4 linked regions of the Homo sapiens genome follow. The protein of the gene in region 1 purifies or fractionates together with the protein of each later gene. This does not show direct contact. Each region holds a gene or a part of one and is shown in the gene's direction. Other genes may lie near its edges.

Evidence for each region. Proteins that work in one complex are often made in the same cells at the same time.
Region 2: the proteins of ABHD10 (region 1) and ACOT9 purify together in Homo sapiens (co-immunoprecipitation; one large-scale study listed by IntAct). This does not show direct contact.
Region 3: the proteins of ABHD10 (region 1) and REXO2 fractionate together in Homo sapiens (co-fractionation; one large-scale study listed by BioGRID). This does not show direct contact.
Region 4: the proteins of ABHD10 (region 1) and ZNF462 purify together in Homo sapiens (co-immunoprecipitation; 2 studies listed by BioGRID and IntAct, with this or other methods). This does not show direct contact.

The regions. Positions count from the first base shown.
Region 1 is NC_000003.12:111,981,774-111,985,945, forward strand, and holds part of ABHD10 (palmitoyl-protein thioesterase ABHD10, mitochondrial isoform 1 precursor), read left to right. Parts: intron 1-10; coding exon 11-194; intron 195-4,172. UniProt on the Homo sapiens protein: Acts as an acyl-protein thioesterase that hydrolyzes fatty acids from acylated residues in proteins.
Region 2 is NC_000023.11:23,702,916-23,705,368, reverse strand, and holds part of ACOT9 (acyl-coenzyme A thioesterase 9, mitochondrial isoform a precursor), read left to right. Parts: intron 1-288; coding exon 289-376; intron 377-524; coding exon 525-675; intron 676-1,386; coding exon 1,387-1,475; 3' UTR 1,476-2,453. UniProt on the Homo sapiens protein: Mitochondrial acyl-CoA thioesterase. Catalyzes the hydrolysis of acyl-CoAs into free fatty acids and coenzyme A (CoA), regulating their respective intracellular levels. Regulates both mitochondrial lipid and amino acid metabolism.
Region 3 is NC_000011.10:114,442,375-114,445,966, forward strand, and holds part of REXO2 (oligoribonuclease, mitochondrial precursor), read left to right. Parts: intron 1-1,481; coding exon 1,482-1,559; intron 1,560-2,166; coding exon 2,167-2,278; intron 2,279-3,592. UniProt on the Homo sapiens protein: 3'-to-5'exoribonuclease that preferentially degrades DNA and RNA oligonucleotides composed of only two nucleotides. Binds and degrades longer oligonucleotides with a lower affinity.
Region 4 is NC_000009.12:106,866,074-106,869,665, forward strand, and holds part of ZNF462 (zinc finger protein 462), read left to right. Parts: exon of another isoform or gene 1-118; intron 119-3,592. UniProt on the Homo sapiens protein: Zinc finger nuclear factor involved in transcription by regulating chromatin structure and organization. Involved in the pluripotency and differentiation of embryonic stem cells by regulating SOX2, POU5F1/OCT4, and NANOG.

The DNA.
Region 1 (4,172 bases):
CTTTGTTTAGCTTGTAGACAAAAGACGTCACTCTCATTCCTTAATCGACCAGACCTTCCAAACCTGGCTTATAAGAAGCTAAAAGGCAAAAGTCCAGGAATTATCTTCATCCCTGGCTATCTTTCTTATATGAATGGTACAAAAGCGTTGGCGATTGAGGAGTTTTGCAAATCTCTAGGTCACGCCTGCATAAGGTAGGAACAACACATTACTGAGAAAATATTGCTACTGTTAGCATTACAGTGGAGAATTACTTCTGTTCTAATCAGTTGAAGTAAATGCCAGCATTTTTATACATTATTTTAATGGTCTGTAAACTTGCATCTTGTGATTTAGGGTAATTTTAAAAGCAACCTTTAAAAGACCTTTTTTAAAGGCCTTTGTGCCACGCTGACAACCCTGGCAGAAAAGGACATCTTAAGGGAAATATTGGTAACTAAGCTCTTTAGAGGCAATAATGTATGTGACAACAAACAGATATACTAGTTGGCTTTCATACAGTCTCTTATATTATCATTTTCCACTGGGGACTTAAGGACTTTATTTGATCACTGTTTATCTAAAAGTAATACATGTATTTAAAAGTATCATAATGCAAATTTCTGCTGAGTTTTCTCTTCCCTCTCCTGTAATCTGAATATGTATAAGCATAAATAGGGATAAGTGGTACTTAACTCAAGCTTGATTTTATAATTCCTAATTTTTCACACTGAGAGTTATTTTAGTAAATAACTTTATGTTATTATAAGGTCTACCTGTAGCAGTTATATGTTTAGTATCCACTGTCCAGAAGAGATGGTATGATTTCGTAAAAAGAAGATTAGCCTGGAATTCAAGAAACATGAGTTCTAGAATAAATTCGAGCAATAACTATGACAAGACAAGTAAGTTAATAAACATTGGACCTAAGTTTGTCATCAAAAGAAGGAGGTTGGACTAGAGATAACTTCTGAGTTATTTTCTAGCACTAACAGCCTAAAAATCTATCCATCTAAATTTTTAGAAGAGTGACTCACAAACATTCATTCAATAATTCTAGAAAATACAGCTGTATATAAAACTTTCAGACTACCTGTTCAATATATTAGCAGCAATTATGTCAATTATAAAATTAAATAAGATTTAATCTTATTTCTTTTACCAAACTAATGAATTATTTTATTTTCATACTCAGAACTATGTTAAAATCTGTTCTGACTTATTCTGAAGATTGGAGTACTTTTTGGAAATAGATTCTCTAGCACTATACTGAGTGCTGCATAATAACAAAGAATTATAAAACATTGTACTTGCCTATGAGGACCTTTCATTCAGGGTGGGGAAACACAAGATAAAATACATGTTAGAAATTTGGCAGAAATACTCATCAGAATGTGATTGTGTCAAAAGAACAGTATACTTAATTGCATAAAGTTAGAGACAGTGGGATTGAAATAGATAAAGGAACGTTGAAGAATAATTCAGATTTGGGTGGGAGGGAAGTGCTGTCCAAGGAGGGGGACTGTCCTGAGCAGAAGATCATAATATCAAAAATATTGTTATCACTTTTCTTTTTTGCCACTGAATAAATTTGAATCGAGAAATCACCATTTTACCAGTTCTAAAATTTCAGCTTTGAGACTATGAGAGTTATAACCAGTTCCTGTCTCCCTATAAGACATAATGTGGCTTTTCTGCATTTTTGGATCCTGTGTGAGTATACCTTCATAAAGAATAGTGCTTAACTACAAATATTTAGTTTGAACAAGTTCCATTTTATTTGCTCTTATCAAAGTTCATCACAGTCTAATTATTGTTAACTATTGATTGCACTTTATTATAAGAGATTTTATCTTCTATTCTCTAATTTTTCAGGTTGCTTTTGTTGGGATTTTTTGCTGTAAAATTTAGATCTTCAATGATGAAATAGTTTATTACACAAGAAATAAAACATATGACTATATGAAAATGTTTTATTAAGGTCCTATCACCATGCCTAAAATAAGACTGATTCAGATCTCAGGAATATAACATATGGTTTTAAGGCTGGTATTCTCTCATAATTATTTGTAATAGAATTTTTATTTGGGACTACATCCCAGACTATTGAGGCTGCTAAGATGGAGATGTGCTACTGTTTAAAAGTTTTAAAGTGCTGAATATGTTTGGATTATCTTTGTCTCTGGATTGGGGTTCAGTGAGAGTTAACTATATTTTTTTAATGGTACCCTGTTAGTATCACCAAGTATTTATATTTTCCTTCATGAAGGAGCTGTACAAGTATTTTGCATCCTCACCATATATTTGGAAGGCAGCTAACTGTAAAAGATGCCACATTCAGCCATATCCAATTGCCACCTATGAAGAGAGAAAAGGAGAAAATTAGTTGGTGTCTTTCCCCCTTTTTTCTTCCACCCCTTCTACCCATCTCTTACATACCCTGGATTGAGGGGGAAACAGTAACTGATTTAGACTGCACCAGTTGCCCTGTTCTATTTCCCAAGGATCCAAAATCGTTTCACTTCAAACCTAAAGAAAAATTTAATTTCTTCTCTCCCCTATTTCTCATAAATCCCTTACTTACTGTACCAGCCATTCCACCAAAAAGGTTCATTTGAACTAGGCTCTGGGAAAGGATATCAGTAAAGAAGGGAAAATATATCAGTAAAGAAGATGATGGAAGAAGGTATTCCAGGTAAAGGAATCAACAGTGTGAGATGTGAAACACATAAGAAAACATAGACCTATTTTAGGAACAGTAAGTTCATCAATTTGTCTAAAGCAGTAGTATTCCCTGATGAAGTGAGTACTACTGTAAAATTTAGTAGTAAAAAAAAATTTACTGTAAAATTTATTGTGAAATCAATCTGAAATGACCAGAATATAATGGTTCAAAAAAACAGGCCAAAGCACTAAGTGTTTATGTTGTATATCACAGGGAGCACTGAAGGTAATGCTAAAATGTTAAAGAAAAAAACTGACATGTATATAGTGACTCTATTTAAAGACAGAGTCATAGAGACACAAGATAGAAGGCTACTGTGATAGTCTAGGTCTAAGATGACAAATAAACACCTACACCAAGATACTGGACTTACCAAAGTACCAAGAAAGGGATGAACATAAGAAGAAATGAGAAAGAATGGTGATGGTATAGGGCAGGCAGTATTCTGTGGCCTGGAAAAACAAACGAATAAAACAGCCTCCTCTTAAGGAACTGACATTCTAGTCAGAGGGAGATGAATGTTTAAAAACAAACTTGATTACAATACAATATGAAAAGTGTTGAGTACATACAAAAGAAAGTGACTGGTACTAAATGGGGCATATATGTCAAGTGAAGTTCCTCAGAGGAGGTGACATGACTTAAAGGGTGACTACGAATTTGGGTTGGGGAGGAAGCTGTTCTTGGCAGCAGAACAGCATGCTAAGGCTCTAAGTTATAAAAGGGTGTAACTGGGAATTAGGAGTAGTTCAGTATGACTAGAGTTTAGGTAACCTGTGGGTGTGGTATGATACTTTATACCACCATGATTTTTTATTGATTTGATACCCTTAAGGAGAGGTAAAATTCATAGATCAGACAGATAACTGAGCCTAGATAACTAGGAAGTTGGAAGGAGAAAGGGATGGGTTGGTGATGATGAATTTTATTCTGGTCTCCTTCCCTTCCATCAATTCACTAAATATACACTAAGCACCTACCACTCGCAAGGAACTGAACTAGGCACTAGGAACGCATTGAAACAAAGCTTGTGCCCATGTGGAACTTTCATTCTAATGTGGGAGATGGACCATAAATAATCAAATATATCTCAAGTAGTAATAAGTGCTATGAAGAAAATGAAGCAGAGTAAAGAATTAGAGAATGATGAAAGCAGCACAGTTTTAATAATTGAATGGTCATGGGAGGCTTTTCTGAGGATGTAATATTTGAGCCAAAGGCCTGAATGAAGTGTGGGAGCAATCTAAATGGCTATCTGGAGGAGAGTATGCCATGTGGAGAGAAAAGCTGATGAGATGGGAGCTTCAAGAAGCAAAGCGAAGATACAGTTGGGAGGGAGGGAGGGAGAGAGAGAAAACAATGAGAAATGAGATCAGAGAGGTGATCAGGCACCAAAGTATGGTAAGGGCTCTGGATTTAAAGATTATAGAAAGCCTTTGGAGGGTTTGCAAGACATGGTTTTGTTTTA
Region 2 (2,453 bases), on another chromosome or scaffold:
TTGATCTTCATTTTAGAAGGTTGTTTCTCTGACTTTGTAAGTTCATACATTAAAAAAACTACTGAGAAAATACAGTGATGATATGTAGAAAGGAAAAGATATAGTTATTTTGGCCCTAATCTGCTCACGATGGCGTCTCTTACCATTTCTCACTGGTAGGATCTTTTCCCCCTTCTCTAACTTTATTCTTCGTTCATTTTTATTTTGCTTCAGCTAGTTGTTAGAGGAAACAATTGAGATCATCTGAATTTTGCAATATACCCCAAATTCTGTCCTTTCCCCCAACAGTGGTTCTCGACCGTTTGTGGTAGCAGTAGATGACATCATGTTTCAGAAACCTGTTGAGGTTGGCTCATTGCTCTTTCTTTCTTCACAGGTAGGTGTGTGATGAGAGATGACATACAACTTTTTTTTTTCATTTGAGCCTAGAAGTTTCTATATCAAAAAGCCACTGTTTTCTCTTATGACTGCCTTTTTCCCCTTCCTAATGCAGTTGACTGATTATAGTGTCTATAATCTGTTAGGTATGCTTTACTCAGAATAATTATATTCAAGTCAGAGTACACAGTGAAGTGGCCTCCCTGCAGGAGAAGCAGCATACAACCACCAATGTCTTTCATTTCACGTTCATGTCGGAAAAAGAAGTGCCATTGGTTTTCCCAAAAACATATGGAGGTAAGTAGTGATTATTGCTTGTCCCTAACAAAGGGAAGAACTTCTAAGGACATTTTTCTCCTTTTGAATTGGAGGAAGTGTATTGATGCCTGTCAGCACAAGAGCATGTCTTCAGGAGATTTTGCTTTTGAGATTTGGCAGCCCTGAAGGCCAAAGATGCCTGTGGCCCCCAGGCGGGCAAGCAACCACTGGTAGTCAAAAACTGATCCAGCCAGGCTGGGCGTGGTGGCTCATGCCTGTAATCCCAGCACTTTGGGAGGCCGAGACGGGCAGATCACGAGTTCAGGAGATCGAGACCATCCTGGCTAACACGGTGAAACCCCGTCTCTACTAGAAAAAAAAAAAAAAAAAAAAAATTAGCCGGGCACGGTGGCGGGCACCTGTAGTCCCAGCTACTCGGGAGGCTGAGGCAGGAGAATGGCGTGAACCTGGGAGGCGGAGCTTGCAGTGAGCTGAGATTGTGCCACTGCACTCCAGTCTGGGCAACAGAGCGAGACTCCGTCTCAAAAAAAAAAAAAAAAAAAAAACTGATCCAGCCAAAGGAAGGGGACAGGAGTCATGGCCTGCTCCTTTGGGAATGTGGCACACCCCGGCCCAACAGTGTATCTTGTTCTGTCCCAGTGTTCCCAAGTAGTCTTGTGTTTGTATGATGATATGATGGTTTTCTACGGTATTACAAGTTTCTCCAAGGTTCTCTTTCTTGTGTTTCAGAGTCCATGTTGTACTTAGATGGGCAGCGGCATTTCAACTCCATGAGTGGCCCAGCGACCTTGAGAAAGGACTACCTTGTGGAGCCCTAAGAACACCACATTTGTTGAAAACTAGCACTCTACCCACAGTGACGTGGTATCTGATGAAGACCTGATCGAGTGTATTGATTTTAGTATTGCTTCGTGTCCTCCACACAGGAGGAGGATGTATTCAGCCTTTAGGATGATCAGAAAAGCAGAAAGAGAGAGTGGCCGGATGGGGCTGAGGGGAGAAAGAATTATTAAACAATAAATACTTTCAAGACAATTTTAATTGTGAACCTACCATGTTGCCTCCCATCTTCTGAAAAAACAAAAAAATTGAGAGGCTGGGCGTGGTGGCTCATGCCTATAATCCCAGCACTTTGGGAGGCTGAGGCGGGCGGATCATGAAGTCAGGAGATCAAGACCATCCTGGCCAACATGGTGAAACCCTGTCTCTACTAAAAATACAGAAAATTAGCCGTGGTGGCATGTGCCTGTAGTCCCAGCTACTTGGGAGGCTGAGGCAGGAGAATTGCTTGAACCCAGGAGGTGGAGGTTGCAGTGAGCTGAGATTGCACCATTGCACTCCAGCCTGGGCGACAGAGAGAGACTGTCTCAAAAATTAATTAATTAATTAATTAATTGAGGATACCATTGGATGCATTCTTTTCTTACACATATTGCAACTGTCAGTATACAAGGTTTCCTGCCAGGGTATTTGGATGACGTTCTTTAAACCTAACCACTTGCTCTGTGCTGTCTAAATCCCATCAGCCGTACATGATTCCTTTGCTTCCCTCTATTTCCCAGCTTTTGTTGTCAGAGGGTAGATGAAAAGTTGGGGCGAAGGGATTTAACAAAAGTTACTGCATCCGTAAAGATTTGTGGGAAGATTTAGGTCTGAAACCATACCATTAGAAGGTGTTTAGAGATGATCTAGATAAGGAAATACAGGACCATTTGGTCATTCTTTCATTCACCAGACAGCTATTTAGCACATTCTGCTAGTGGCTCCGCAGGATATATCTGATTTAAAAAATAGGA
Region 3 (3,592 bases), on another chromosome or scaffold:
GAGTATTTTTTTTCATTTTCATAGGTTTGGGTTTTCTTTTTCCTTCGTGACTATCATAAAACATCTGTTATCCAAGCAAAATTTTTTGTTTCTTCGCAGAGATTACCAACACCAGTTTTCTTGTTTGGCTAAATCTCCTTTTTAGTAGTAGGATGTCAGGCGTATTTTAATTAAATTCTAGCCATTTCTTTCAGTGATTGTGAACTGTTTTTACCACCTTAGTAGTAATAATACCTTGGATTTATGGAATACTTTTCTATCAGAGAGTTCAAAGAGCTCATATCTATAATTTCTTTTATCCTGTTAACATTTCTATGAGGGAAGGGGTACAGTTTATTATTATCACTATCTTACAGAGGGAGAAGCTGAGGTGACTTGCTTTAATGCCGTAGCTACTGTTAACTGCCAGGACTTATCTGAGAGACTCATACTTGGATGTTCTATGAAATGGAGCTGAGAATTTGAGGGCTACTTTGTGTTTTGGATATCAACAATTACCTCTTTAATTTTTTTTTAAATATAAAAATACTGTTAAAACAGTGTAACTATCCAAAGTATGTGTGTAGTGAACTATTGGATTTTTGTCCTGTTCTATTGCTCCTTCTTACTCCAAGTTTATGTATTGTCTTGATATTTTGTATGTTTATATAAATGCGTGTTTTTTTTAAAACAAGTGTAAATGAAATCATACCTATACATACATGGTTTTGCAATTGTTTTTTTCACCTGCAATATAGATACTTTTTTTTTTTAAGAGATAGGGTCTCACCCTGTCACCCAGGTTGGAGTGCAGTGGCATGTAGCTCACTGTAACCTCGAACTCCTGGGTTCAAGTGATCTTCCTGCCTCAGCCTCCTGAGAAGCTAGGACTGTAGGGGTGTGCCACCAGGCCCACCTAATTTTTTTTTTTTTTTTTTTAATTTTGTAGAAATGAGGTCTTGCTATGTTGCCTGGACTGGTCTTGAACTACTGGCCTCAAGTGATCCTCCCACCTCGGCCTCCCAGAGTGCTGGGATTACCATGCTTGGCCTAGACACTTTTCAAAATGAACTCATAATCAAGGGTTGACAGACTTTTCTGGAAAGAGCAAGTTATTAAATTGTTTAGGCTTTGAGTGCAGTCATATGTTCTTGTCATATGTTCTTTTTTTTTTTTAAACAATCTTTTACAAATGTAAAAATCATTCTTAGCTTTCTAGCTATTAATAAATAGCTGAAGTGTGGGGCCATAGTTTGCTGACCCTTGATAGATATCTGTGTCATCTATTTGTAGGATTAGAGTTTTCAGTGGTGTGTGTATGTTCGTATGTTCTATTTTGCCTTAATGAACAGTGCTGGAATGAAGGGGGAACACTTAAAGTATCCTTATCTCTTACTTTCTCTGATATGTATATTTAGTCCTTAAAACAGCTTAAGCTTTCCCTCTGAAAGTAAGGTTATTCCTGTTGTTTCTTGGTGACTGATGGCGTTTCCCATCCACAGGGTCCTAACCTGATTATAAAACAACCAGATGAGTTGCTGGACAGCATGTCAGATTGGTGTAAGGAGCATCACGGGAAGGTAACATTACCAAATAACAGGATTGCTGCTTTGGGGATCAGTAGCAAGCTTTTTGCTCCCACACCTGAATCCGATACCATTGTTGGATGGTATTTTAAAAAGGCTTAGAGAAGATTGCATGGCAAGCCTGGGAAACTGCTTGCTTGTTTACTTTTCATCTTTGGGACCTCTCGAGATCATCTTCTCCTGAATGTCCTCTTTTTTTTCTCTCCTACATTCAGTCTGTCGCGAACGCATTGTGGATTGTCAAGTATTACTCAAGTCAGTCTTTTGGATAAGGTTAGACATCAACTTTCAGAGAAGGGGGATTGCTGCTCTCCTGTTAATAGTTGTTTCTTCCCAGAGGTTAATATCCTTGGACTTTGAACACCGTCTTTTTTGACTGTGGACATGCTATTAACAGTCAGGATCATAACTAAGTTGGCTTGGATTCTTGAAGAAAAAAAAATGGTGCAAAGATGGCAGTTGCAATTTGAACTTGAGCTCTAAAAATGGTCTATTTGTGGTTATATTTGCCCATTTTAAAAGTGAAATTTCATTTCTGGATGCCTTTGAAAACTGACTTTACATGTGTTTTTGGTGGGGGGCTGGGGATTCTCTCTTGCAGTCTGGCCTTACCAAGGCAGTGAAGGAGAGTACAATTACATTGCAGCAGGCAGAGTATGAATTTCTGTCCTTTGTACGACAGCAGACTCCTCCAGGGCTCTGTCCACTTGCAGGTAAAATCCAATCCTGTGTATATCTTATAGTCTTCCATATGTAGTGGTTCAAGAGACTGCAGTTCCAGAAAGACTAGCCGAGCCCATCCATGTCTTCCACTTAACCCTGCTTTGGGTTACACATCTTAACTTTTCTGTTCAAGTTTCTCTGTGTAGTTTATAGCATGAGTATTGGGAAAATGCCCTGAAACCTGACATGAGATCTGGGAAACACAAACTTACTCAATAAGAATTTCTCCCATATTTTTATGATGGAAAAATTTCACATGCACAGAGGAGTGGATTTAGTAATTGTTAACCTTGTGTCGTATTTGTTTTACCTATTTTTTGTTGGACATTTTAAAGGAAATTGCAGGCATCAGGACACTTCATTCCTAAATACTTCATCAAACATCTCCTAAGATAAAGACATTTTCTTATGTAATACAATGTCATTGCATTGAAGATAATTAAACATTATTCAGTATCATATGATATCTAGTCCACATTAGATGTTCCCCAAAATATTTGTTTTTGAACCAGGATTCAGTCAAGGCTCGTGCATTTCATTTAGTTATATTTCTTTAGTCTCTTAATGTAAAACTTTCCACCTATTATTTTTCCCCTGTGTCATTGACTTTCTAAAGAGACCAGGCCTGTTCTACCAGGATTTTTAAAAGGGTGACATTGCCAGAGGGAAGTTAATGTTTCTCTGAAGGTATATGTACGTTTGTATATGTAAGTCGATGTGGTAGCTAATACTGTTCTTAAACATTTATAAAAATAAGTTTTGGCATTAAGTACTAGAGCATATATTGTGTAAATGTTTCCGCCAGCCAATGTGGCTGATATCTGTTTTAAAGGTCTCATTTAAAATTTAGTGTTTTTAGTATAAGTTACTTTTTGGGGACATAAATATGCATATGATTTGTTTAAAAATTTGGATTGTAAATAAAGGTTTATCTACCTATGTGATTCAGTTAAATTTTTAGTGTTAGTGGTGTGAATTTTGTGACACTGGGAGAAAGTTTGCATATCAGGTATGACCTTAGAAAGTAACAAATAGATTTGTGCATTACATCAAGCATGTGGAATGATAGATTTGTCCTTCTGTTCATGAGAGGTCATTTACAAATTTATAAGGAGCTAAACTGACTAAGTACTTGGAAATCTGTACTTGTAAGCTAATCACATTTACCCAAACCTGATTTAGAAATATAGAGGTGCTTTTAGGAATTGTTTGAATTTTAAAAAATCATCTCCATTTCAAATACAACTTATGAATTTTGATATCCTGTTGTATAATACTAGAAATATAGAGATGCAGTATGCTTC
Region 4 (3,592 bases), on another chromosome or scaffold:
AAACTTGGAGGAGATTCAGAACCAGTTAATATATTCTAAGGAGGCTAATTGGACCTTGCTTTCAACTAAGAAGAAATATAGAAAGGTACCAGCTTCAACAGAAATAAGGAACACATTGGTGAGCAACTTACAACAGCATTTTTCTTGCTTTGCTTTCTCATTATGTGTCAGATTTTTTTGTGTAAAGTTCCTTATGTCTAAAATATTTTTGTACATATTGAAGTGGTTTTAGATTCCAGATGTAATTATATTCTGTTGAGTAGCTGGTAGCACTGTCACTCAGTAAATGCACAGTGCTGTATATGACAACATCACATTTTTCAAACCAAACTGTTGTGTCATTAATTGAGGGTTATTGTTCTTCTGAGGGGTGTGAAAGGAGAGGGGAAATACATGGTTCTTTAGCTGATAATTGTCCATGGTCAATGAAGTAAAACCATGTTTGTGCAGACAAAAATGTATGGTTTCAGTTGACGTGTATGCTTATTTAAAAATACTTCTGTTAGATCTCTGCTCCTTTATGAAAAACCTAGGCCTCTCCAAGAGCACTTAAAAAAAATCCTACTTGGAATCATAACTTTTATTATTCATTTTTGAACATTATCTTTTGATACCATTACTTTTGCTCTTAAGTGAAATTTCGCCAATATTATATTTAAATTTGCTAATGCATAAATGGATGCACCAAACTGGGTGTCCAAACTGGGAAGTTCAGTTGCAATGGATAAAGAGTTATTTGGAAAAGTAATTACCAGATAATTTTACATCTAATTAACCATGTATGTTTATGTAAACATAAGTACATTATATATTGATCTTGAAACAAACTTTCATGATATCTTTTTTTATTGTTATTGATAGCAGGACAATTGGTTCATTTGCTCATTTCAGCAGGGGGGAAACATCTGACAATCTGGTTGTCAGTCCAGCTGTTTGACTCTCCACATTTTTTACTTTGCAACCAAATGTGTTGGCGTCTTAGAGTTGAACTTTTCTGGAAGGGAAAAAATAGGTATTTAAGAGGCATCTTGGAATTTGGAAATGCATTCTAACTGGTTATCTAAGACACATCCATCTCTGATGCCCTTCACCAGCATGGCAAACACCATAATATTTAAGGACATGGTTTTTTGAATTTTTCTAGACATACCCATTTGAATTAAGACAAGTATTTTGAATAAACCACCATGAGAGAAATAAAAAGTATTAAATCAGACATTTTCATTTAATGTCAAAGCTCAAAGATCATTTTTGTTTATGAGACAAGTTCATGTGGCTTATTATGCAAATTTTTTGCCATGGCTCTAATATATCACAGGGAGAAATCATGGAGAAATATTTGCGAGCTATGATGCATCCTGCCATAAAAAAATTCTTGTTGGATCCTCACATTGCATAATATTTCTCATATTGGATTTATGTCAGTCTAATTCATTGACCATATTCCCCGAGGAATTGTTTTTTCCCCCTTACTCTTTGGAGTTGGAGACAACTTTTAGAGAAAAAAAAAAAAACAAACTTATCTGCTCTTCCTAATGAATCTTCCGGAAGACAGCAGAAGAAAAAAAATCCAACTCTACTAATGGACTTTAGAGTACTTGTGGTCGGTTTTCCTGAAAGAAAGGAATGGTAAAGTTGCAATGGGAAAGAGTCCTTTTTTCTGTGTGATGGAGTTTAATAGGGTCTAGTCTGTCTTAAATTATTCCTTGATGTTGCAATTACTTGGTTAAGGTAACCTTACTTATCTTCTTTATGGTATGTGCCTTTTTCAGACTTACACTTCACTGCATCATGAAATTGACAAAACTGTATCAGATATTCTAAATTGATAATTGGAGAACAGAGATGCTGTTTCATAATGCCGCAGTCACAAATAGGAGATACATAATGGACTCTTACTGCTAAGGATCTAACATGAATGTATGACTGGGATGATTGGTATATTCAGCAGAAGTGGAGGGAGACTATTTCCATGACTGAAAGCTAAAATCCAGTGAACTGAAAAAAAAAAAAAATCAGTGTGTGTAAAAGCAAGTATCTTGTGAGTTTCACATACTTATGGAGTATGATGGCTTTGAGAGAAACATTAGCTAGGTGTTGGTGACCTATTAATTGATTATGAGAAAACAGAGAGGAGAGTAGATAATGCTAGAAGAAAATTCCTCTCCTTGTGTGATATGCCAAGACATCTGGCAGATGTTATGTTGGGCCCTAAGGAATGGACAGTTTAATTTTAGCCCTTGCAAGGAAATGGGAAGTTCTAAGCTCTTTTAATAGCACAAGTCTTAGTTTGGGGAAGGTTGCTTACAAAAATAAGAAAGAAAGGAAAAGAGGCACTTAGTGTTATGTGGAAGAACTCTAGGGAGTAGGGAGTGAAAACTGAAGTTTCGGGGTGAGGAGCAAAAATATTATTTCTCATGCAGAAATTACCAAAATTATTTTAAAAGTGACAAATATGTACACTGTAAGTAAGGACTATTAGTTATTTAATATTCACCAGGCAGAACTTCCAACTTAGAAGCTAGTTGTTTTAGGCCCTAGATCATTTAGATGAAGTCTCCTCCTTCCACTTGCATTATACTGAAGAGGAAACTGGCACAAAGACATGAAGTGACTTGCACAAGGTCAGAAAGTTCAGTTGTAACCGAGCCAGGCCTAGAACTCAGGTCGGCCGACTCCAGCCTAGTGCCCTTTCCACTACCCCATTGCATTTGATTGTTGAGGGTTGTGAAATAGCTGCTCTCTTCTCCAGGGCCCACAGCTTTCTGAGAAACTCTGTACTCATACACTAGTGGGCAGGAGTATGGATTTTTCTTAGTTGGATTTAACACGTTGGGGAGCCCAGGGTTGAGCGTGGTTTCATTCATAGATCCAGAGCCCAATTTTGTTCATGTGACATTCAGTAAAGTGTTAGCTCCCGGGTTTGTAGCTGTACTTTTCTTTTCATCTTTCCTGCTCTCATCTCTCATTCCATCATCCAAGGGCTTGGGAGCCCTTCTCAAATGCCCTTCTTTGGAAGTTTGTGTGAGTCTATTGCAACTTACAATAGTGCCCACAATTGGACTCTGAGGATCTATTTTGCAACGTGGTGCAGATTTAAATTGGCTCCTTTCAGAGATGCCATTTTGTAATACTGATGAATGGCTGAGAGGGTGAAATCCAGTCTGAAACAATTACTGGTGGTTTTCCAATGTTCTTACTCATTCAAAATGTGCCCTCCGTGTATCTTCTTGGAGCCCAACTCTCTTGCAGACTAATGGCTAACCTTTTCCCATTTTCCCAGTATACATGAAATCATCCTTAAGATGACTTTTAACAACACAGACATTTAACCATGAGCAATGGGACAGTCCTGTAAGGAAGGGTGCAATGGGTTTCCACTTCTGTCTCTTCTTGGATGAGCAAAAGTGATTTTGTAAAGAAGAAGAGTGATGTTTGGAAGTTTCCACATTTTCTAAGCTCCTTCCAAACGAATGCATCAATTTTTAATCCAGGAGGCAGTCTGGAGAAGGTAGTGCTGGATGTGGACTTCTGGCAGAAACACAGTTAACGCTGTAAACAGTTGAACCTCAGTGTGGCACTCCTCCAAATG